Linked DNA regions of Homo sapiens. The protein of the gene in region 7 purifies or fractionates together with the protein of the main gene of each other region. This does not show direct contact. Each region holds a gene or a part of one and is shown on either strand. Other genes may lie near its edges.

Evidence for each region.
Region 1: the proteins of KCNK18 (region 7) and PPP3R1 purify together in Homo sapiens (affinity purification with mass spectrometry; one large-scale study listed by BioGRID and IntAct). This does not show direct contact.
Region 2: the proteins of KCNK18 (region 7) and NOTCH3 purify together in Homo sapiens (affinity purification with mass spectrometry; one large-scale study listed by BioGRID and IntAct). This does not show direct contact.
Region 3: the proteins of KCNK18 (region 7) and FUT8 purify together in Homo sapiens (affinity purification with mass spectrometry; one large-scale study listed by BioGRID and IntAct). This does not show direct contact.
Region 4: the proteins of KCNK18 (region 7) and PTPRD purify together in Homo sapiens (affinity purification with mass spectrometry; one large-scale study listed by BioGRID and IntAct). This does not show direct contact.
Region 5: the proteins of KCNK18 (region 7) and BMPR1A purify together in Homo sapiens (affinity purification with mass spectrometry; one large-scale study listed by BioGRID and IntAct). This does not show direct contact.
Region 6: the proteins of KCNK18 (region 7) and RMDN3 purify together in Homo sapiens (affinity purification with mass spectrometry; one large-scale study listed by BioGRID and IntAct). This does not show direct contact.

Annotation. Positions count from the first base shown.
Region 1 is NC_000002.12:68,186,533-68,190,032, reverse strand, and holds part of PPP3R1 (calcineurin subunit B type 1), read left to right. Parts: intron 1-1,342; coding exon 1,343-1,519; intron 1,520-2,718; coding exon 2,719-2,778; intron 2,779-3,380; coding exon 3,381-3,500. UniProt on the Homo sapiens protein: Regulatory subunit of calcineurin, a calcium-dependent, calmodulin stimulated protein phosphatase. Confers calcium sensitivity.
Region 2 is NC_000019.10:15,158,538-15,160,766, forward strand, and holds the end of NOTCH3 (neurogenic locus notch homolog protein 3 precursor), read right to left. Parts: coding exon 2,125-2,229; 3' UTR 501-2,124; downstream 1-500. UniProt on the Homo sapiens protein: Functions as a receptor for membrane-bound ligands Jagged1, Jagged2 and Delta1 to regulate cell-fate determination.
Region 3 is NC_000014.9:65,615,230-65,618,729, forward strand, and holds part of FUT8 (alpha-(1,6)-fucosyltransferase), read left to right. Parts: intron 1-748; coding exon 749-864; intron 865-981; coding exon 982-1,144; intron 1,145-1,860; coding exon of another isoform or gene 1,861-1,962; intron 1,963-3,500. UniProt on the Homo sapiens protein: Catalyzes the addition of fucose in alpha 1-6 linkage to the first GlcNAc residue, next to the peptide chains in N-glycans.
Region 4 is NC_000009.12:8,520,503-8,524,002, reverse strand, and holds part of PTPRD (receptor-type tyrosine-protein phosphatase delta isoform 1 precursor), read left to right. Parts: intron 1-478; coding exon 479-490; intron 491-2,456; coding exon 2,457-2,726; intron 2,727-3,500.
Region 5 is NC_000010.11:86,889,119-86,892,618, forward strand, and holds part of BMPR1A (bone morphogenetic protein receptor type-1A isoform 3 precursor), read left to right. Parts: intron 1-943; coding exon 944-1,106; intron 1,107-3,008; coding exon 3,009-3,111; intron 3,112-3,500. UniProt on the Homo sapiens protein: On ligand binding, forms a receptor complex consisting of two type II and two type I transmembrane serine/threonine kinases.
Region 6 is NC_000015.10:40,752,455-40,756,605, reverse strand, and holds the start of RMDN3 (regulator of microtubule dynamics protein 3), read left to right. Parts: upstream 1-1,351; 5' UTR 1,352-1,523; intron 1,524-1,815; 5' UTR 1,816-1,822; coding exon 1,823-2,009; intron 2,010-4,151.
Region 7 is NC_000010.11:117,207,489-117,210,799, forward strand, and holds the end of KCNK18 (potassium channel subfamily K member 18), read left to right. Parts: intron 1-2,008; coding exon 2,009-2,811; downstream 2,812-3,311. UniProt on the Homo sapiens protein: K(+) channel that conducts outward and inward rectifying currents at depolarized and hyperpolarized membrane potentials, respectively.

The DNA.
Region 1 (3,500 bases), on a different chromosome or scaffold from region 7:
GTGAGGATGCCATATATTTAAGCTGTCAAAACAGCTTGTATTTGTACTCTTTTCTAGTGTTGTGGGCCATAATACATATATACTCATGGGCAGTATAACATTTGCCTTCTTAATTTTCTTTTTAAAAGTTGTTGTATTTAATTTATTTTTATTTTTAATTTTTTGAGATGGAGTCTCACTCTGTCACTCAGGCTGGAAAGCAGTGGCGTGATCTCAGCTTACTGCAACCTCCGCCTCCTGGGTTCAAGCGATTCTCCTGCTTCAGCCTCCTGAGTATCTGGGATTAGAGGTGCGTGCCACCATGCCCGGCTTATTTTTGTATTTTTAGTAGAAGTGGGGTTTTTACCATGTTGGCCAGGCTGGTCTGTAACTCCTGACCTCTAGTAATCTGCCCACATTGGCCTCCCAAAGTGCTGGGATTACAAGCGTGAGCCATTGCGCCTGGCCCGTTGTATTTAATTTAAAAAATATATTTGTAATTATTTCTATAAAGTCATGATCAAAATTACTTATGTGTATTAGTCAGATATTTTAAAGGAATGAAAATGATGTAATTTAGAAGAAAATAGCTTAAACCTGTTGTTTCAAGAATTTATATAAGAGACCTGACACTGAATTTTTATGGATTACTTACAAACTAATGTAAACATTTCTTTTTAGTTATTCTTTCTCTTTTAAAGTGTTGATAAGTGAATTTTGTTAGCTATTTGGTTGTTAAGTAAAAACTGGCTTATTTGCTCAAACTTGCAAAGTATCTCTGGAAGAATATTTAGGAAACTGGCAACGTTGCTTTCAGAGAAAGGAAATGGATATCTCGGGGTGGGAAGGGAGGGAAACTTTGAATTTTGAATACCCTTTGAATTTTTGAGTCATGAACTATTAGAAATAAAGTAAATTAAAATTTAACAAGAAAAATGAAAATGAAAGTACTTCGGTTTACAGAACAGAGGTTGATTGAACCTGTCTGGTAGAACCTCCGTGATCAGCTTAGCATTGTCAGTCCTGAAATAATCTTTTGTGACCTCCATGATCAGCTTAGCATTATCCGGCCTGGAATATCTTGAGACTCAGCATACAGCGGATGTATGTAATGGCAGGTGCAAACAAACAGAAAGGTAACCAAATACAAGTATTTATGCTGTACTTACTCTATTAGAATAAATTAGTTAACATAATATATACCTCTTTTTATCAAATTGGAAATTAAACTATTGGATAACTGTTAGATTTTTTTTCCCCCCTATAACTATTAAAATTTTTTTTAAAATCTTGCTACTGCCCATTAGAAAGGATTTGGGAACATTTTTAAAAAATTCTTGCTTCCTTTTTTGTTTGCTTTTAGTTGATGCGGATGAAATTAAAAGGCTAGGAAAGAGATTTAAGAAGCTTGATTTGGACAATTCTGGTTCTTTGAGTGTGGAAGAGTTCATGTCTCTGCCTGAGTTACAACAGAATCCTTTAGTACAGCGAGTAATAGATATATTCGACACAGATGGGAATGGAGAAGTAGACTTTAAAGGTAAGAAAGTAGTTATTTTTTATAACCACAAGTTATCTAACCTATTTGTATTCTTACAGCTCTGTGTAAAAAAAAAAAAAAAGTGCTTATATTCCTAGTGACCTTACAATAATAGATTATGTTAAAACCTCAGCGTCTGTGGCATATACACCTTAATGAACTAGGACATTTTACTCTGTGGTTCATAAATGATTAAGTCATTCTTTAGGATAATCTACCAAAAAGCAGGGGGGACTCAGTATTTCCTTTCTTTTTAGAAAATTAATCTCACTTTAGGGCAATACTGTATATTCTTATATACATTAGAAGCTGCAATTCCTTTTATTTATTTATTTAATTTTTTTGAGATGGAGTCTCGCTCTTTTGCCCAGGCTGGAATGTGGTGGTATAATCTCGGCTCACTGCAGCCTCCGCCTCCTGAGTTCAAGCAATTCTCCTGTCTCAGCCTCTTGAGTAGCTGGGATTACAGGCATGTGCCACCACACCTGGCTAATTTTTGTATTTTTAGTAAAAACGAGATTTCACCATGTTGGCCAGGCTGTGGTCTCGAACTCCTGACCTCAAGTGATCCACGTGCCTCAACCTCCCAAAATGCTGGGATTACAGGCATGAGCCACCGCGCCAAGCCAGTTTTTTTTTTTGTTTGTTTTAACAAGTAAATAAACATTTCACAAGGGATTTGTCAATAGATTTTATTTTAGTTTGGACAATTATAAGTGGAGGGATATAAAACTGATTATGATTTAGTGCTTATCAGGCAGTGAAGAAAAATGATCATTTGTCATGAAACTTCTAACAGCATATTTGATTCACAATTTTGAAACAGAAGGCTAAAGTTTTTTGTGTGTGTCAGAACAATTTATAGTGGGTTTTTTTTTAAAGCCCCTTGTTACAGTCATATTCTAAGAGGGAAGAGTTAAACAACTTAAATAATATGTTTTGAGTGTTCTTTTATCTTGCACTTAACAAATGTTTGTTCAAATTGATTGACCTTAGAGAACTCCAAGTTCAAATAAAAAAAATACAGAGAGACCTTGTTTGTTGAGGTTTCAAATTTGGCAATTTTATTTTTAAACGTTGCTAGTAGTACTTCTGTTTTGCAGCAAGGAAATATCCTTTTGTGGGTATGTAAGGTAAATATGTTTTTTGTGTAAAAAATTGGAAGTTCTGATTTGTGAACATTTTTAACTCTTATTCAGAATTCATTGAGGGCGTCTCTCAGTTCAGTGTCAAAGGAGATAAGGAGCAGAAATTGAGGTGTAAGTATTTTTCTTCACTGACTTCATTCTCTTATACTACCATCATTTCATACTGTATTATAGAATGCTTTTTAAAATAATGAAAAAGATGTCTTTTATTCCAGATCCTTAGACATAACTGAAATTTTACATTCTGGTGAAAATCCTTTTAGGACATTTCCAACTACTATATTTGAATAATGTGTCATTGCTGCTTTTAGTTGGATAGAAGGAAAACAGTTTCTTTCTGCTGAAAACAGCCATGTAAAACTACATATGTAATTTAGAGAAGAGATTTTTTTAGTGAAAGTGGGAAGAAATGTTCTAAAGAACCGGAGAGGTTGGAGTTGTTACTATATCCAGTTTTATCTGTGTAGAAACTGAAGCTTAGCAGGGATAGTTAACCTACTCTAAGCTCCACCAAATCTGCTCAGGCAGTCTCAAAAGCCCGTACGTTTAACCAACTATGTTAAACTGTGCCTAAGGACAACTCTATTTTAAGGAAGGAGACATCCTCATAGTCATAATTTTGATGTTTGTCAGTTTACTATTTTCTTTCTTACTGAAAGCATTTACTTGTGATTGCTTTGTAATTGGAATTGATTTTCCTTCCTTTTTTTTAGTTGCTTTCCGTATCTATGACATGGATAAAGATGGCTATATTTCCAATGGGGAACTCTTCCAGGTATTGAAGATGATGGTGGGGAACAATCTGAAAGATACACAGTTACAGCAAATTGTAG
Region 2 (2,229 bases), on a different chromosome or scaffold from region 7:
CAGCCTGGGTGACAAGAACAAGACTCTATCTTAAAAAAAAAAAAAAAAAAAGGAAGAAAGTAAAAGAAAAATCAATCACAATACTAGGAGTTTCTCTCTTCCCTGGAAGGAGCAATATGGCACCTATTTTGATAACACAGAGAGAAGGCTGGAGCTGTGTGATGTCGGGAAGAGAGGTTCTACTGGGTGCCATGTGGAGCATGTAGATGAAACTGATGCCCAGAGAAAGCTGTAGAGATGAAGAGAAACTGAGCCATTGTTGACCACATTTGAGCCACTAGATCAATTCTCCCCTGAAGTAGGTCCTTTTAATTTATATGAGCTAATAAACCCCTTTCTTGTTTAAGCCAGTAGACTTTTGTGTCATTTGCAACCAGGAGCACTCCAACTGACAGAATCAACGAACATTAAATCCTATCCTCCTTTCCTGAAGACACCAGTGTAAACAGAACCTTGTCTTGGAGCACGACTGGTTGCGAGTAACAGAAACCCACCGAAGCTGGCACAAGTAAAGAAGTATTTATTACATGGGTCCAAGGTTATCTCCAAAACCCATAGGAGCATGAAGTAAAAGTGAAATTCATGCAGAACCATGATCAGATACTTAGAAAGCAATTAATAAATACCTGTTGATCTCAATGGAATGAACACTCAATTAACTGGAATTGATAACTGCACTGGGAGCCGAGATAACCCCCCCAGCCCTCAAGGAGCCATTTGAGCTCTCATTTCTGATTCTCCCTGAATATTAGCTTCATTCTTCTGCCCTGTTTGCTTGTCTCTTTGCCCACCACCTCGAATTGGCCACTGATATTTCTAAATCTGATTGTGACCTTAAGAGCTCCACCAACTGACAACTTTCTTAGCCTCTCCATTAAAGAAAGTTCTCGAGCAAAAGAATCTGATTGGCTCAGCTTAAGTCAGGTGACAACCACTAATCCAATCGGTAGTCATCTGCCAAAAGAGGAAGCATAAGTAGACTGGCAAGTCAAATGTATTTACCCCAAGATGGGAGCTCAAGTTAGCCCTGGGTGGGGGAGATAGAAGTCCCACTGCCACCACTCCCCACCTTACCTAGACACAGACCAACAACACTGAGTGTTAACTATTCCTTTATTAGGTGGTGAGGGGAGTGGGGGGCTGTACAATGCAGGGCTTGGGAATTCAGCTACACAGGGATTTTGACCAGAAGCCATATTACAAAAATAGCCTAAAAATACCTCTATTCTGCCATGAGGCTGGGCCAGAGGATTACCAGGAAGAGAAAGTACCACTCAGGCAGCTCCTCTTCTTGTAGTCCCACATTTACAGGGACACAAAGGAATGCATACATCTGCCCTGGCTCCCATTTCCCACCAGCAGCCCCCTAGTTCCCAAAGGGAGATGGCCAAGGGTGGGGCTGGGGCAGAGGGAGTTGGCAGTGGGCCCTTCCCCAGCAAGGCTATGGAACATGTCCCATCTGGAATGCAGTGAAGTGAGGGAGGTGGGGTGGGGAGGAGGCTCCCAACACTCCCCCGACCCCTGGCCCCAGTGGGTGCGCCCAAGGGTGCCTACTTGGTACATACCTGGGTCGTGTACTCGGTACACGGGATCCCAGTCATGCCTGTGTACTAGGTACACAGAATCCAGCTTGGCCGAATGGGCCCACAGACTCAGCCCCACGGGGGCACTGGGGGGTTCACAGGGGGAGGGAGCATCTCCATATATATATTTTGTAAAAAATAATAATAATAAGTTTGTTTAAATGAATTTGTTTCTATACAAAATGTAAAAAAAAAAAGAAAAATAAAAATAATAATAATTCATTCATGTCAGAGTGTAAGGAAATGAGAGGCCAGAAGGAGAGAGAAAGGAATGAGGGAAGAGAGAAGTGGGGAAGAAGGAGGTCCCAGACTCTTCACAAGACTGAGAGGGTGGGTGGTAGCCCCCACCCATTATAAATAAAGGAAGACTGAAGCCCTGGGCTGATGACCTATCTCGGTCACGCTGCAAGGCAAGGATGCAGGAGGGTTGGTGGAAAGAGAAGAGGATGAAAAAGACTAAAAGGAAGGAAGAGACAGAGAAAGAAAGGAGGCAGGACGGGGGTCTCTTTAGGCCCCCAAGATCTAAGAACTGACGAGCGTCTCAGGCCAACACTTGCCTCTTGGGGGTAACTTCCGGCTGGGGCCCCAGCTGGGTCTGGGCCTGAGCAAGGGAGCTGGGAACAGACAAGGGAAGTGGCTGGGCAGG
Region 3 (3,500 bases), on a different chromosome or scaffold from region 7:
TGAGTAGCTGGGACTGCAGGCACACACCACCATGTGCCCAGCTAATGTTTTCATTTTTGTAATGATGGGGGATTGCTGTGTTGCCCAGGCTGGCCATGAACTCCTGGGCTCAAGTAATCCTCCTACCTGGGCCTCCCAAAGTGCTGGGATTATAGGCATGAGTGGCTACACCTGGCCCAATTTTTTTCTAATATGTTTTATCTTCTACTCTTGTCTTTCTTTTTTCTATATAAGACCAATGCTTAGTAGTCTAATGTCATGAATTGAAAGACAGATTTACATAGTCTGATATTATAATTAATTTAGAAATACATTATATTTGATGTTTGAGCATGTCCTTAGACACATGTTCAGATATGCTTCGTTATTCCCTTTAAGCCTTTTCTTTACTTTTTCCTTCACTTTTGTTACTCTCAATGCTAATGAATAATTGACCTCTTTGCCACTGATCATGGTACTCTGGGGATGAAAGATTTTTAGGAAACAGCTCTAGAGGTTTGTTAACTCCTAGAAGATCATAGATTTCTGAAGTAGATTAATATTTTCTATTTTTCGTTATTATCATTTCATTGTCCATTTCACTGGTTAATCCTATACCTTTGAAGAGAAAATTCCATTTGGTACTACTTTTGTGCTATATGGTTCAACAACTTATGGAGTTTACAGTATAAATGTTTTAGAAAGTGAGCTTGTATTTTGTTGCACAGTTTGAAAGCTAAATGTTTACATTATCTTCCCTAAACTACAGGATACCAGAAGGCCCTATTGATCAGGGGCCAGCTATAGGAAGAGTACGCGTTTTAGAAGAGCAGCTTGTTAAGGCCAAAGAACAGATTGAAAATTACAAGAAACAGACCAGAAATGGTAGGTGATTATACAGTGTTTTCCCCTCCTCAGTATATGGGCTTTAGCACAGATAATTGAAAGTTTCCTTTTATCAAAATGTTGGAAATGCTACAACTCTCTATTCTTTGACTACAGGTCTGGGGAAGGATCATGAAATCCTGAGGAGGAGGATTGAAAATGGAGCTAAAGAGCTCTGGTTTTTCCTACAGAGTGAATTGAAGAAATTAAAGAACTTAGAAGGAAATGAACTCCAAAGACATGCAGATGAATTTCTTTTGGATTTAGGACATCATGAAAGGTACTATTCTCCTTTCACATTTTATTTGGGCTTTAGAAAAGATTATAATCTAAGAATGAGAAACAGACTTGTTAATCCATCTGTTGAGTGGTAAATATTAATAGCACCTACAATATTTAAGAGGCGAAGAGTACCTGAGGTCCCAAAGGATGGTAATTGCCAAGTGCAGTTCATCAACCAAAATATACCACCAGAAAGTATTAATTAAAATGTATTTCTAGAAATCTTTACATTCTAAATAAATTCTGAAGGTAGTGGTGCCAGCCAACAATACATTAAAATATCTTTCTATAAATGTTCTTTATATATAATCAGTATTTGAAGTGGAGTGTGCAGTTTTGCATTGCGGTACATTGGAACTCATAGTGAGTCCGATGGTTACATTTCTAATTCAAACATTAAAAACTTTAAAATAGCATTTTTTTAAGGATTTCTAATGAAAGGTTAACAGGATTTTTTTTTTCTTTAAGTAAAAAGGAGCATTCTGTTCATTGTTCTTTCATTAGTTGCTGGAAAGAGGTACCTGAGATCTGCCTGGTTAAATTTGTTTCTCCTATGCACACGTTGCTAAATAATATGAAGTTTATCTTCCACAGAAAAGAAAACATTTTGGTGCTGTTGTATTCATGCAGAACAAAATGTATCTGAAAATCATTATAAATACAGTGAAACCTGTCTTTAGGCCTGTTATATTTAAAAGTCTATGTTTCCAGTAGGATTCTGATGGCAATTACTGTCTCATTAGTGAACAATAAAAGAAAAATTGTTGTATTAGCACAACCTACTACTGTGAAGAGGAAAAGAATTACCCCATACAAGTAAGAGATTTCATATTTATTAACATCAGCAGCAATATTATAATGATTTTGAAAAATTGCTTGGTTGTTTTAGGTGAAATTATAAATAAAAATCTGTCTATTGGAATCATTTTAGCATTAATGAATCTACAGAAATATGATAGCATGGATTTCAAGGGGCAGTGAATTATTAGGCCACACATTGGACAGACTTTTTGATATATTTAGCCCAACTTGCAGTCAGGCCATACTTAGACCACTAAACCAAATGCTGACTAATTCTGTCATTAATATTTCTCTACCCTAAAGCTGATTCTAGGCACGAAGCATCTCTTAAATGGAATTTTGTGCTTGTGTTCTTTGCTTATCACAGTTTTTTAGGCCAATTCACATCTGAAGAGGATTTGACTTGGGTAGACTATGCTGTATGTAAAGGAGAATTTTGGCCACTGACTTCTGATGGAATGTTTAATTTTAAGATTTGAGTAATTGGGCTGGGCGTGGTGGCTCATGCCTGTAATCCCAGCACTTTGGGAGGCTGAGATAAGAGATCTCTTGAAGCTAGGAGTTTGAGACCAGCCTGGCCAACATGGTGAAACCCCGTCTCTACCAAAAATACAAAAATCAGCCATGCATGGTGGCACATGCCTGTGATCCCAGCTACTTGGGAGGCTGAGGCCCAAGGATCACTTGAACCTGGGAGGCAGAGGTTGTGGTGAGCAGAGATCATGCCACTGTACTCCAGCCTGGGCAACAGAGCAAGACTCTGTCTCAAAAAAAAGATTTGAGTAATCAAATAACTTGAGAATTTAATTTTCCAGTGTTTTTAAAAATTAATTCATATATATATATATATATATATATATATATATATATATATATATGTATGTATATATTTATTTATTTATTTTTTAGATGTGGAGGTCTTTCTATGTTACCCAGGCCAGTCTTGAACTCCTGGTCTCCAGTGATCCTCCCTCGTCAGCCTCCTGTGTAGCTGGGATTATAGGCCTGGGCTACCATGTCCAGCTGAATTGAAATAATTCTTTAAGGAATTATTTTGTAAATAATAATATAATTTGTTTATATAACTCGCATATGTTTTGTGACCATATGTACAAATGAAAAGTGAATATAAGAAATGGGCCCCTGAGAAACTGATATAAATCAGTTTTCCATTTTGTTGTTGTTGTTGTTGAATTATGATTCCTTACAGTGCCATTTAGTATGTTAAATAATGGTAGTTCATTGAAAACAAAAATGGTAAGTAAAGGTACCCAAGTCAGTTTATTTTCCTGTCTTAAACAGAAATGACAATGAATCTGGGACATAACTTCATAGGGTAGTAATTTAACTCCAGGAAGCCAGATTAGAATGCAGTAATACAAATAATGAGCAAAACACAATCAAACATTAGAGAAATAACCCTTAAACTGACGGACGTACAAATAGAAAGGACTTTTATTATGTAGAATATACCCTTTTACTGACCATTTTCAAGATCCTTAAGTATAAGAATTAAAATCAAAACAAACTTTTAGGTTTGCCTCTGGTAATTT
Region 4 (3,500 bases), on a different chromosome or scaffold from region 7:
AAAAGACTGAGAGGGCTTTAAGTTACAATAGGATGGGTTCCCTTAAGAAAATACCTAGCTTGATTTTGAAATTTTTGTTAGAGGTAATTTTGTTTCCCTGGGGATGTTTTTCTCTCCTTTCTTTTTTTATGGAGTCTGGGGTGGGGAAATATGAAGAAAGTCATTTCTTCTCTAAATTCTTCGAAAGTCCCTTGATCCTTTTTCCACAATAGTGACCTCCCTTGCTGCATGAGGCATGTGTACCTTCTTCCATGGAAAATTTCAAAATGATGCTAGCTATTGTTTCTAATACCATGTTAGTCTGTGAGATATTGCTAACTTTTCCAGCTGAGATAGGAAGGATGAACTAGAGCGAATAAAGATGTTCAAGTAGCAGTTGAAAGCCTTGATATGGCCTTTTTACTCTCTCTGTGTTTCCCTTGTTTTTCTCCTTTCCTCATTTCATTGTGTTCTGCATCAAACCCCCTACATCCCTCAGAGCTGCGAGAAGGTTGGTGTGTTTTTTACTTTTTACCCACCTTACAAAACTATTAATTAAACCAATAACAAAGAATACAAATGAAATGAATGTAGCTGCATTGTGTTCTTCTTTTGGTTAATGGTATGTTTTAGCAGAGAATGCCCTGGCCATGGCTTCTGGTGCTTGCTGGTGGTATCTAACTGTGGTGCATGGTGGGAGAGAATGTACCTGGGTGCATGGTAACTGGTAACACTTAACTCTGTAAGGTCCAGTGAACTTGGTCAGTGTTCCTGCTTTCCTTCCTGCTCCACTGTCCCCATCTCCCACCCTGCCTTTAATTTCTGTCTTATAAGGATGCCTGCTGCCCATAGAATGACTTTTTCTAGTTTCTCCCCTAATCCCAAGCATGAAGACTAAACTCTCCTCCATTTTTCTTGATATGTTCTTTGATACCTCAGAGTCTACACTGGCTCCTGCTTGCTTTGTGTAACCTCTGTGAATTGGCTGCAGGAGGCATGCTTAGCTTTCTCTTCTTCTCCTATGACTGTCATTCACCCATGAGGCCATTGCAGTGAGCCATCTCAAATAAGCGGAGGTTTATCTCGACCTTAAGAGCAGCCAAAAAGTTTTCAGACAGAATTACTTATCTTCTTCTTGGGGTTATGAGGTTACTTATCAGTTTATTTATAATTTTTAAAAAATCTTTATTAAATGTATTTAAGGTGTGCTCCCTAAAGATTACCCTCTAGATCTCAAATTCTTATGGTATGACATTTTGCCAGTAAAAGCCCCAGATGAAACCAATTTATCTTTCACTTTCTCCTTGTATCACATCCAAAACACATTTACTTAAACACACATAAACCTGCAGATTATCTGAAGCAGGAACACTGAACTGAAATTGCTTGGTAATTTTTCTGTGTTATGTTGCTTTAATATGATCTCTTCTCTTAATGTCATGTCCTGCTGTATGTTTTAGATCCAGTGTCCCTCAATTTGAATGTGGGCATAAAAAGCCTTTTAAAAGATTTTGTTGTCATTTATGTTGTTTTACCTTTGATATGAATTGAATGGAATCCTGTATGTGAAACACCCAGCTCCCTTTCTGAATTTGCAATCCTTACCTTTAACAACTTGAGCTTAATCTTCTGTCTTTCAACCCTGTCATCCCCTAAGTCCCTGTGTTTCAATCGTTATACTTTACCTCCCCCTTTCACGTTTATTTCTATTGCCCCCTTATTTCTTCTGCGGTCATTGCTGTCTTGGATTCCAGCCATTCTTTCAATATCCTTAGCACGGGCCTTGAGATTCCATCTTGTGCATGCCTTGCATGACCCAATCCAGTATCTCTACTGGTGTTAGCCTGTTTCTTCTTCTGTGACTGTAAATCAATATGTATATACATTTCTGTGTTTGTTCCAGTGTTAGTGTGAGGTCTTGAGGCTGCATCCACTATGAATCTGAAAACATAAAGTGCACTTTCAGTGTACTCTAGGTGATGTTTTCCAGGGCTGGGATGTGACAGTGTGGTCCCACACCTACATTCACATCAACTGGAAGTGCACAGCACTGAAGTTGGTTTTGATACTCAACTTAAACATGCTGGTGACCTTCCAGCCCCCTTTTCTGCATATACATGCCTGCATAGAATCATTGTTATATGCCTGCATGTATATGTTTTTGTGTTTATCTTATGCATGATGTTTGTGTATTGTTAGTTTGTAGATAGTTTTTTGTGGGGCCCTTGTAGGTCTGAATCAACTTTTGTATTAGTGTGTCTAAGATATCAATGACTAAACTAAATAAATAATTCTGTGTATACACACACCATACTTGTATGGTCTGTATTATCCACAGTTTTTCTTTATGTTTTGTTTTTGGACAATCCACAATGTTTCAATTGTTGAATCGTGTCTGTACGGTGCATGTCATGTGTTTAATAATCCACTTTTTCTTGCCTTGTATATGTTATCATTTCCCTTGTGTTTTGTTCCAGTTCGCCGTGTCCCACCAAGATTCTCTATCCCACCCACTAATCATGAAATCATGCCAGGCGGAAGCGTTAATATCACCTGTGTGGCCGTGGGGTCACCAATGCCTTATGTAAAGTGGATGTTGGGGGCAGAAGATCTGACACCTGAAGATGATATGCCAATAGGAAGAAATGTGCTAGAACTGAATGATGTAAGACAGTCAGCAAATTACACCTGTGTTGCTATGTCAACACTGGGTGTCATTGAAGCAATAGCACAGATCACTGTCAAAGGTATGCTCAATGGATTATGCTTTGAGGATCTGGGTACACTCAAGCCAAGTGACTAATGCCTCTAGAAAGCCCATCCTTGAAAATCTAAAATAATTCATTATTCAGCATTTTAAATGTGTGTATAACCTAATCATATCTGTGGTATTATATAACATGCATAAGCCTAGATAGGCGGATTTTTTCTTGGAAGTATCTGGCAGCCTATGTAGAGATAATCATCAGAATATTAAAAGACAGTCCATGGAGGCCCAGGCACTAACCAGACAGAACTAGGAATTTTACACATGGTCGACCATTATGGTGGGACTGATGTGTACAGTCTACATACTAGACCAGAACCTTGATAAGAACCCCAAGAAAAGTCAATATGAGCATTAATAAATGCTTAAAATTTCTAAATACAAAGGAAAAAGAAGAAAAAAAAAGTTGAAATCAACATAGTCTAGTAATAGATGATTTAACTTTTTGGTGAGCCCTACTATTAAAAATCAAAAGGCAAGTAAGAGTATATTCTGTTGTAGTTTTATCTTTCACCTTGCATAGATGAGTGCTCAAGGAATATTCTTTCCTTTAAAAAACAGACTAAATATAACCAAAGTACTATATTACATGAATATTTTTGAACTAAAGAGAAAGAGTACAAGCATGTAAGGGTACCGTTTTTTTTTCCCCTAGTGTTTATAGAATTCTAGAAAGTGTTTGCAAATTGAGTCAGACATAGGGCAACTTAAGTTTTCTGCAGATGGCTAGAACTATTGCAAAATGAACACAAAT
Region 5 (3,500 bases), about 30 Mb from region 7:
AATTACTAGAACAGTTTTTTTAGTTCCGTTCTGCTTCCAGCCTGAAAGATTTAGTACCAAATATGACAGTATCTGTCACTGCAGGCTGCTAGACTCTAGTGTAAGAACATAGTTCTATTTCTGTGAGCTAACTGCTGCCCTTCTATAACCTTCAGTTTCTGCCAGCATCGTCTGCATTCAAACCAATGACCTCGAGGTGAAAATCTCCAGATAACATGATTGGTCCCCATGCTCTCATGATTTCCTTACTTAAGCAATTAAAGGCCAAAGCAAGATGCTTAGTAACTCCTTTTCCACATAGAGGCACAAATAAAGGAAAGCTGGTCACAAGTTTTGAACCAAAGAGTTAAAAGAAGAATCATAACTTGTCTCTATTTAATGATTGGAAACTCTCACAGACTTCTGTGAAGTCTCTCCCCCTTTTGTACCTTTCTTACAAGTGATGACTATATACTTTTACCTGGCAGGGGAGAGACCACGGTCACGAAGGTGGTTTTCCCAGGGCGAGGCTTATTCATTGCACTCCAGATGTGCTGACCCCTGCGATTTCCCCAAATGTGGGAAACTCAACTGCATAATTGTGGTGGTGGGGGACTGCGTTCATGCTTTTCCCTGGTTAAATTAAAAAATTTTTAAGTTATTTTAAAAATATAAAAAACAAGATTTGACTGTATTCTGCCTTGCGCCACTCTTGTTTGTCTTTCACTAGTGCAAAAATTGTGATATAGCTGTCTTCATGTACCCCGCAATACCTGGTGCAGTAATTCTGTGCATAATAATGTATGTCTGTTTGTTGTATGAATGAAATTTATATTTCTAAAGAAACATGCTAGCTACAATTATTGTGATAAGAAAGCTTAACAACTTTTTCTCATTGAAAATTGTCACGAAACAATGAGCTTTTCAGAAATGATTTACTTACAAATTCCATATTTGAATGCAGGACAGAATCTGGATAGTATGCTTCATGGCACTGGGATGAAATCAGACTCCGACCAGAAAAAGTCAGAAAATGGAGTAACCTTAGCACCAGAGGATACCTTGCCTTTTTTAAAGTGCTATTGCTCAGGGCACTGTCCAGATGATGCTATTAATAACACATGCATGTAAGTATTTTATGCAGCCCTTCTTAAGAGTTAGGAGAATAGAGTTGCATTTAGTGCTATTTTAAGAATTATTAAACTTGTCTGCGGTTTTTTTTTCATTCATATATAGTATCTTTCCAGAAAGCCAAAAAGCCTTTTGTTTTGTATATTAGAACATTATTCCATTAAATGATTGATAGGTGAGTTACTATATTAGAATTATGTTATAATGCAGCTTTTAAAATAAGATCAAAGGGATCTAGTATTTAACATCTGAGTTTTTAATGATCTTTTAATCTTAAATTTATTGATGCTCATTTTAGAAAACTTAGAGGTTACCAAAAAAGAAATCAGAAAACTCACTGACAACCTCCTACTTCTTTTTAATTTAAAAAAAAATTTTTTTTTTAACTATAGACAGGATCTTGCTATGTTGCCCAGGCTGGTCTCAAACTCCTGGGCTCAAGCAGTCCTTCCACCTCAGCCTCCCAAAGTGCTGGGATTACTAGGGTGAGCTGCCACACCTGGCCTCCTACTTCTTAATTAGTTGAAATATTTTGCAGATATATATAAATCATATTGTGTTAATTAATTTTATGCTTTTTTCTTACCTGTGAATTTACCAATCCAAATCTGATTTATAAAATGATTTTAATTTTTCTAGTGTATTTCGTGTTAGCTGCACAACATGTTTATATATGATCATGTAATTCTAGTCCATATTTGTTGGAAACATTGACATATTGACTTAATAAGACCAAAAAAAATTGCCTGAACAACTCAACCTCATCAGTCAATTAATTGTCTCCTTGTTATAGAGGCAATAATGAATGTCATGTTTTATACTTTTAATAATTGTATGTTCCCTGAATGGACCAGATAGAAAGCATGAAACTTTACACGTAAACTCTTGAACCTGCATGACGGTCATCGTGTCTTAGGTTTGCTGCTTGTCCCCTGGTGGTGGTGGGCTCTGCGTGGCTGACTGTGACTAGTTGTTCATTTTTACCTTGGTGAGAGTTTGCCAGCAGGGAACTGCTCTCTGCTATGTCACCAAATAATGTTTTGCTAAACTTCTTGTCTGTAGTACCTGCCTGATGTAATGGGCTGTCTGTTAGTAGCTTAGTAACCCAGAGTAAAACTGAATCATCCATTTTAACAGAATTCTGCCCCACACTTAACATTTTCTCCTAACAGAAAACCAAGAATTCTGCAAAATTCTTCTAAGTAGAAGCAGCACAATTCCTGATATTAACAATAAATAGGAGTACAGAAAAAGCTTTTAGAAATTTCTCCCATACCTGTTAAAGTCTATATGAATATATTAAGGGGAAACTCCAGGATGCTAACACTAAAATAAGAATTTCATTATATATGTATGTAAATTTATTGAAAATTTATTCAAAAGTCCTCTCCCTGTTTTCCCATCATATTCAGTAAAAGGTGCCTTTTAGTCCCCTTTTTTTTGGTCATTAAGCCTATTTGTATGTTTCAGAGAAAAGTTTGTTTTTATCTATTATCATATACAATATGGAAGTACTGAAAAAATGGGTAAAAAGAGACAAAGTTATTTTAAAGTATGTTTTCAAAACATGACATAAAATTTTATAAATCAGCTTTCTGTGATCACATGACTGATTAGCAAAGAGAAGTCACATAACTCCTATGTGGAGGACTTGTTTAATTGAAATCCTTTTCTTCTTGACAAAGGGTTGTCACTGGCCTTTTAGATCTTGGCTCAGACATAACTTTCATTTGTCTTAAAACCTCTGGCGTTGCCAATAAATCACGTGTGAATGCAATTCTAAGTCACAAAACAAAGTATTAAAGGCCATCTGTACCTGTTCACATTCAGACTCAAATTTCGTTAGTACTTTCTATGTGAATTTATGTTTTGTTTTGTTTTGTTTTTTTCTGTTTTAGAACTAATGGACATTGCTTTGCCATCATAGAAGAAGATGACCAGGGAGAAACCACATTAGCTTCAGGGTGTATGAAATATGAAGGATCTGATTTTCAGTGCAAAGTAAGATATAATTTGGGACCCATGAGACAAAGAAGGGAGGGGCCATATGAAAGCATCGATTTCCCCCAGGAGAAACATGCCTGGTGTACACATCGCTGTATGTTCACATCAGTAAATATATTGGAGGAATACCTACTGTCTAGATTCTGTCCTGTATTCATATGTAGAATTTATAACTAAATCATTTCTGAAAAGCTAATTGTTTGATTACAATTTCCTTTTTTATTTCCATAGACAGCACCTGGCTCTGTTGCCCAGGCTGGAGTGCAGTGCTGCGATCTCCGCTCACTGCAACCTCAAGCCAGCCTCCTGCCTCAGCCTTCTGAATAGCTGAGACTACAGGTGCATGCCACTATACCTGGCTAATTTTTGTATTTTTTGTAGAGACA
Region 6 (4,151 bases), on a different chromosome or scaffold from region 7:
GGGCGGGGGAGGAGGTTGCAGTGAGCCGAGATCGCACCACTGCATTCCAGCATGGGCGAAAAGAGCGAAACTCCGTCTAAAAAAAAAAAAAAAGTATAATGGAGGCAATAGAGCCACAGGAGCAAAGCAGGGTGAAAAGCTTAATTTCACCAAGGTGGTGATCTGGGAAGGTTTCCAGAGGAAATTTTTATTTCCTCCAAAATAAAGTGTATATATATATATATACTTTATATATATATAAATATATTTTTTGTTGTTGTTGTTTTTGTTTATTTGTTTTGAGAGGAGGCCTCACTCTGTTGCCCAAGCTGGAGTACAGTGGCGAGATCTCGGCTCACTGCAACCTCTGCCTCCTGGGTTCAAGCAATTCTCCTGCCTCAGCCTCCCGAGTAGCTGGGATTACAGGCGTGCACCACCATGCCCAGCTAATTTTTGTACTTTTAGTAGAGACGGAGTTTCGCCAGGTTGGCCTGGGTGGCCTCGATATCCTGACTTCTGTTGCCCAGAGTGATCATGGCTCACTGCAGCCTCGACGACCTGGGCTCAAGTGATCCTCCCATCTCAGCCCCCAGAGTATCTGTGACTACAGTCACGTGCCACCACGGCCGGCCTCCTGTATTCTTATATGTATACAATATCTCACAATTAAAGGGTAAATAAATATAAGATCTAGTCAAGGGTATTGGGAGGACTGGCCTAGATATTTCTTTCACTAAACTAAATTTTAACTCTTAAGAAATGTTCACAATAAAATTGTTATCATAGTCCATAAAATCGGTCTTTTTAGTTGCCACAATTATAAGAAGTTGCATACAATTACAAGAGTAAAACAGAATTATAAGACAGCACGTTAGGTTTAAGATTTATGGCCGGGTGCGGCGGCTCACGCACTTTGGGAGCCCGAGGCGGGCGGATCGCACTTTGAGAGACCAGGAGAGCGGGACCCAGTCTCTACAAAATAAAAATAAAAATAAAATGTGGGGAGAGCGTGACGTTTTCCAGGTACAGAGGGGAGGTCCAGGCAGAAGCGCAGGTAGAAAGTGTGAATATGCTGAGCGTATTCCGGGAGCAGCAAGTTAAGCCGGTGTGACCGGAGGGAAATGGAGGCCTGGCTGCCGGACGGTGAGGGTGACTGCGCGAGCGTCCGCCCAAGAAGTCTCCCTGCCTTCCCGCCTTTCCCCTGTCTTGGGCCCCTTCTTGCTTTCCTTTCGCGCTCTGTGCTGACTCCGCCCCTCCGGCGGCGCCCGTGGCCCCGCCCCTGAGGGAAACAGACAAGGGGCGGGGCCGGCGCGGTCATCTCTCTGCGCCTTCCCGCAGGGCGCCGAGCACCTGGCGCCGCCTGCCTGACGTCACGGTCACTGACAGCGTGAGCCCGCGGCGGCTGCTGCCATGGTGGCTGGCGGCCGGGTAAGGGTCTGAGTGGATCTCCTGCCAGGCCAGAGCGCCTTCGGGGGCCGCGGCGGAAGGCCAGGAGTTTGCAGCCAGGGCGCCGGGTTTGTGGTCTGCAGTGTCGTGAGGCTGAGGTGGGGGTTGAAGGCCCAGAAGCCGGACTCTGTGACCCGGGTCGGGGGGTGTACTGGAGGGGCGGCTACGTCCAGGCTGGGTGAGAAGAGAGGCAGTGGGGCCCAGGAGGCTGGAGGAAGCCTTAGGGTTCAGACTGGGGTGCACGTAGTCGAGAGCTCAGGGTTTGGGCAAGGGGATACCTGCCGGGGTTCAGCCTTGAGGGTGGGTTTACCGGGTTCACGAATCTCTCTCTCTCCTTACCCCCGCCCGCCCGCCCGCCTGCCTGCTCCCGGTGACTTCTGCTGGCCGCAGGTGCAGCATGTCTAGACTGGGAGCCCTGGGTGGTGCCCGTGCCGGGCTGGGACTGTTGCTGGGTACCGCCGCCGGCCTTGGATTCCTGTGCCTCCTTTACAGCCAGCGATGGAAACGGACCCAGCGTCATGGCCGCAGCCAGAGCCTGCCCAACTCCCTGGACTATACGCAGACTTCAGATCCCGGACGCCACGGTAGGAGCCCGTCTCCTGAGACCGCGGTCACTGCAGACTAATGGGCCTGAGGTCTGGGCTGCTTTCGGTGGAGACTGTGGGACAGGGTAACGGAGAGAAGTGCTTTAGGGTTTCACTTTTTTGGAAGCTTGTTGAAAAAGCAGTCGTCGGGCTGGGCGCGGTGGCTCACGCCTGTAATCCCAGCACTTTGGGAGGCCGAGGCGGGCGGATCACCTGAGGTCAGGAGTTCAAGACCAGCCTGGCCAACGTTCAACCAGATGTCAACATGGTGAAACCCCATCTCTACTAAAAATACAAAAATTAGCCGGGCGTGGTGGCGCGGCCTGTAGTCCCAGCTACTGGGGAGGCTGAGGCACGAGAATCGCTTGAACCTGGTAGGCGGAGGCCGCAGTGAGCTGAGGTTGCGCCACTGCACTCCAGCCTGGGTGACAGAGTGGGACTCTGTCTCAAAAAAAAAAAAAAAAAAAAAGCAGTCGTGGTTTTCTCTACTCTTTCGCCTGTACTCACAAGAAAGTATATTTCAAAAAGACTGTTTAACTTTCACTTTTAGTTCTGGCCACAATAGTGCTATGTGGGTATTAAAGGCACTTGCTTAGTGTTGGGTGAGGTGTGTAATAAGTAGAGGAAGAGTCCAAAAGAGGGCAAAAAGAATAATCTTGTAGGGATTAAAAGTCTTGAGGCTTATGTATTAAATCATATATTAGAATTTGAAGACAACTTGGCAACTATCAAGACAACTTGGCAACTATCTCATTCAAGTTTTTTTTTCTTTTTATCCCTCCTATGAGGAAACCAAGATTCAAAAAGATGGTATAACTTTCCTGAGGCTGTCACAGATTAAGTGGCAAGGTTGGGCCTGGTCACCTGGTCCAGTGGACTTTCTACGGCATAGGGCTAGGAGCACGCTTAATGCAATTGAAGCTGAATGTGGCTGGCAGCCTGTACAGCTGAAATGAGTAGTTCTTGCAGATTTGTCAATTCATTTGAGCAAAGGATCTAGGGCTGGTTCAAACTACTACCATCTTTGTGCAAGAGGAGTGTTTTTTTTCTTTTCTTTTCTTTTTTCTTTTCTTTTCTTTTTTTTGAGATGGAGTCTCGCTCTGTTGCCCAGGCTGGAGTGCAGTGGCATGATCTTGGCTCACTGCAACCTCCGCCTCCCTGGGTTCAAGTGATTCTCGTGCCTCAGCCTCCCGAGTAGCTGGGATCACAGGTGCGTGCCACCATGCCCAGCTAATTTTTGTATTTTTAGTAAAGATGGGGTTTCCCCATGTTGGCCAGGCTGGTCTCCAACTCCTGGCCTCGGCCTCCTAAAGTGCTGGGATTACAGGCGTGAGCCACCACACCTGGCCAAGAGGAGCGTTTACATTATCTCACTCCCATGCTAATTGGAAATGAGTGTTTTCTCTGATTGCCAATGTTAGATGGTTTGGAAAAGTTAGTTTTGGAGTCTTCAAAGAGCTATCAGCTTAGATTGCAAATGATTGTCAGCATTTTATAATCTTGTGGTAATCTAGTATTGGAGTGTGCTTCCTTCCCTTGTATTTTGTTTGTAATTGCTTCGCAGTAGTGTTTCTTCTGAGATTAGAAGAAAGTGGCCACATTGCCAGGGATCTTTCTTGCACTACATTCTTGAGCATTATTGGATGTATGTTGTGGCCTGGCCTAGTTTTTTACCAGATTTCCTTTAAGAAGGGATTTATGCTTGCCGTATTGTAGGGTCCTGCCTCTCTGGTTTCTTTTTTGTTTTTGCATTTTCCAGTTCAGTTACCATAGGTGGCTGTCACTTTGCTAGCATTTCACTGCTGGAATTTACTCTGAGATCTAGGGTTGGGTCAGCAGGGCTTAGTGACGGTGTCTTTCTGAGGCAGTTTGGATGGGCTTTTTCTGGTGTACCTTTTCTCTTAATAACTGCCCCCTTTCTCCTAGTCCTTCTCTGATATACTAAATGAAGTTCTGGGAGAAACTCCAAGTTTTCCCTACTATTATTTGTGAAGTGAGAGATCAGAATTTGAGGGAGCTCAGTTTTAGTTTTAGTTTTGCTATGTGGTTGGTATTGACTCCTTGGTATTGGGCACTATATGGTGAGGTGAAGGTTTTTGTTTTTTTTTAACTCTAGCAGGACAGCTGTCCTCCTTCAGGTTC
Region 7 (3,311 bases):
CTACTTTGCTCAGCACTATGCCCACAGTGCATGCAGTAAGCACTCAATACTGAATGTATGCATGCATGAATGGATGAATGAATGCACATAGTTAACTGACGCTGCCATCAAATGGTACTTAGTGGAACCAGCCAGAGTGGCATGGAGTGCTCTGGAATGGATGCAAACTGATGAGACTCTTTGAGAGCCACAGCTCCCTCCCCTACACTTGGGACCCTGGTGAGGGTAGGCAACCTGAATGCCCACCTGCTCTTGGAGGGCAGAGCCTGAGGCCAAAGTTTGCCACAGGGAGCTGCACTTCTGGAGGAAGTTGGGGCTTAGCCAGCTGAGGAGTTGCCTTCAGATTAATTTACATAATTGGGCTGGGTTTTTCTGTATTAATCATCCTTTATGACATCAAAAATTAAACACAGGCATTAAATACAAAAGCTTTGTCCTCTGCTCGAATTGATGCTTGCCCGCTCCAGAAGATCTAGCCACCTGCGCTGTGGGGTTTGAGGTCTGTCTGCTCCTGCCCCTCTGTAGGTGCAAGGGGAGGGGAGGGGCTCCCGACGGGGATGGAGACCTCAGCGCATCCCTTCCTTTGCTTGGCTGCCTGGTTGTCTCTGATTGAATGGTCCTGCCCCCGGATGCTCCTGAGGGTGACAGCACTGGTTGGGGACCTGAGAGTCCTGTGGATTTGACCCCAACTCCACTGTGTATCACATGTATGCTCACGGCCAAGCTACTTCGTTTCTCTGTGCTTCAGTTTCCCCACCTGTGGATGGTGATAACAATACCTCCCTATGAAGGCTGACTGACACCCAGCCCACAGGAAGTGCTCACTAGGCAGCTAAGGTCTTGAGGGTGAGGACACCACCAGTTATTAATCGCGCACTGTGTGTCAAGCACGGGCCTCATGTAATCCTCCCAGCTAGTCAATACGCAAAGTAGGTATTGTCATCCCCATCTTACAGATAAAAAAAACCTGAAAATATGAGCAGTCAAGTAATATTATCATAAATAGCAGAGCTGGGATTCAAAGCAAGGTCAGTCAGAACCTAGATGCTGGGAGGCTAATGGCTTCACTGTCATTTAGGAACATGTTTGTCTAATCTGCTAAGCCACAAATGGCTCTGAGGGCAATTGTATTTTATTCATCTTCCATCTTTCTGTTTTTCCTAACACTGTGCACACTGCTGAGCACACCATGGGAACACAATAAGTGCCTCTTAGAAACAAAGAGCTCAGTCCTCTTATGGAGGACAAGGGTAGCTTTTTTTTTTTTTTGAGATGGAGTCTCACTCTTGTCCCCTAGGCTGGAGTGCAATGGCACAATCTTGGCTCACTGCAACCTCCACCTCCCGGCTTCAAGTGATTCTCCTGCCTCAACCGCCTGAGAAGCTGGGACTACAGGCGCCCTACACCATGCCCAGCTAATTTTTCTATTTTTAGTTGAGATAGGGTTTCACTATATTGGCCAGGCTGGTCTTGAACTCCTGACCTCAGGTGACCCGCCCATCTTGGCCTCCCAAAGTGCTGGAATTACAGGCATGAACCACCACGCCCAGCCAAGGGTGGCTTCTTAAAAGCCAGCACCTTCACAGAGGATAAAGGTGGCATTGGATATGATTACAAAGCCACCCATCCTCTCTCACTTGTACTCATCCTGTCCTTCCAGGTCAGCTGAGCCCTTCCTTTGGGGGGTGCTCAGAAATGGCCAGAACAGAATCAAAGGCAATCTGTTCACCCCAAACCTGTGCTGGTCCCCTGCCAAGGACATTTCAAATCAAAGACCTGGATATCAGTTGCTCCTTATCCTAAAGGGAAGCTGTTTCACTCCTTTCCCTCCCACCAAAGCAAGCCTAATGCCAGACCAGTGGCTGAATGCTTTGAGATGAGTATTTTCAAAAACAATGTGTAAAATGTCATGCCAAGGAGGGGAGATGGCAGAAGGTCTCTTTAAAGCTTTTGGGGGGAAAAAGGGAAGGGGCCAGATGCAAACTCTAAGCTCCATCTTCTTTTTCAGGCTATGGCTACATCTACCCCGTCACCAGGCTTGGCAAGTACTTGTGCATGCTCTATGCTCTCTTTGGTATCCCCCTGATGTTCCTCGTTCTCACGGACACAGGCGACATCCTGGCAACCATCTTATCTACATCTTATAATCGGTTCCGAAAATTCCCTTTCTTTACCCGCCCCCTCCTCTCCAAGTGGTGCCCCAAATCTCTCTTCAAGAAAAAACCGGACCCCAAGCCCGCAGATGAAGCTGTCCCTCAGATCATCATCAGTGCTGAAGAGCTTCCAGGCCCCAAACTTGGCACATGTCCTTCACGCCCAAGCTGCAGCATGGAGCTGTTTGAGAGATCTCATGCGCTAGAGAAACAGAACACACTGCAACTGCCCCCACAAGCCATGGAGAGGAGTAACTCGTGTCCCGAACTGGTGTTGGGAAGACTCTCATACTCCATCATCAGCAACCTGGATGAAGTTGGACAGCAGGTGGAGAGGTTGGACATCCCCCTCCCCATCATTGCCCTTATTGTTTTTGCCTACATTTCCTGTGCAGCTGCCATCCTCCCCTTCTGGGAGACACAGTTGGATTTCGAGAATGCCTTCTATTTCTGCTTTGTCACACTCACCACCATTGGGTTTGGGGATACTGTTTTAGAACACCCTAACTTCTTCCTGTTCTTCTCCATTTATATCATCGTTGGAATGGAGATTGTGTTCATTGCTTTCAAGTTGGTGCAAAACAGGCTGATTGACATATACAAAAATGTTATGCTATTCTTTGCAAAAGGGAAGTTTTACCACCTTGTTAAAAAGTGAAGGTTTCATTATCTCTCAGGTGACAGACACTGGCTGAGCTGGTTTTCTTGTGTTGTCTTTCAGGGTCATGCAGCCTGTCACCTGAGACCTTCAGTCTTGGAGACAAATCCCTTATGAGAGCCAAGTTCAGTCTTGAGGCCCTGCAGAAATTTGGCCAATGCCCTTTGTATCAGGGCATTAGGAAAAAAAAACTATCACCATTCCCCAAAGTCCAATTAATTTATCTGTCTTCCTTTTTTAAAGCATCACCTCATGTAGATGAAGCAACCTTATGGATGTCCCTGCTTTTCTTGAAATATGAGAAACAAAACACCTTTATTCTTGGAAGTTGTACTTTTAGTTAAATTAAAATCTTCCTGAGCTGTTCTTTGTTACCTGAAAAAGAACTAGTGCGAACAACCTCTTTTCTTGAATGACTGCATGAACGCATGTAAGACCAGCCCAATCCCAGCCCCTGTAAAATACATAGATGCCGGGTGTCACCAAAATGACAAAGTAGA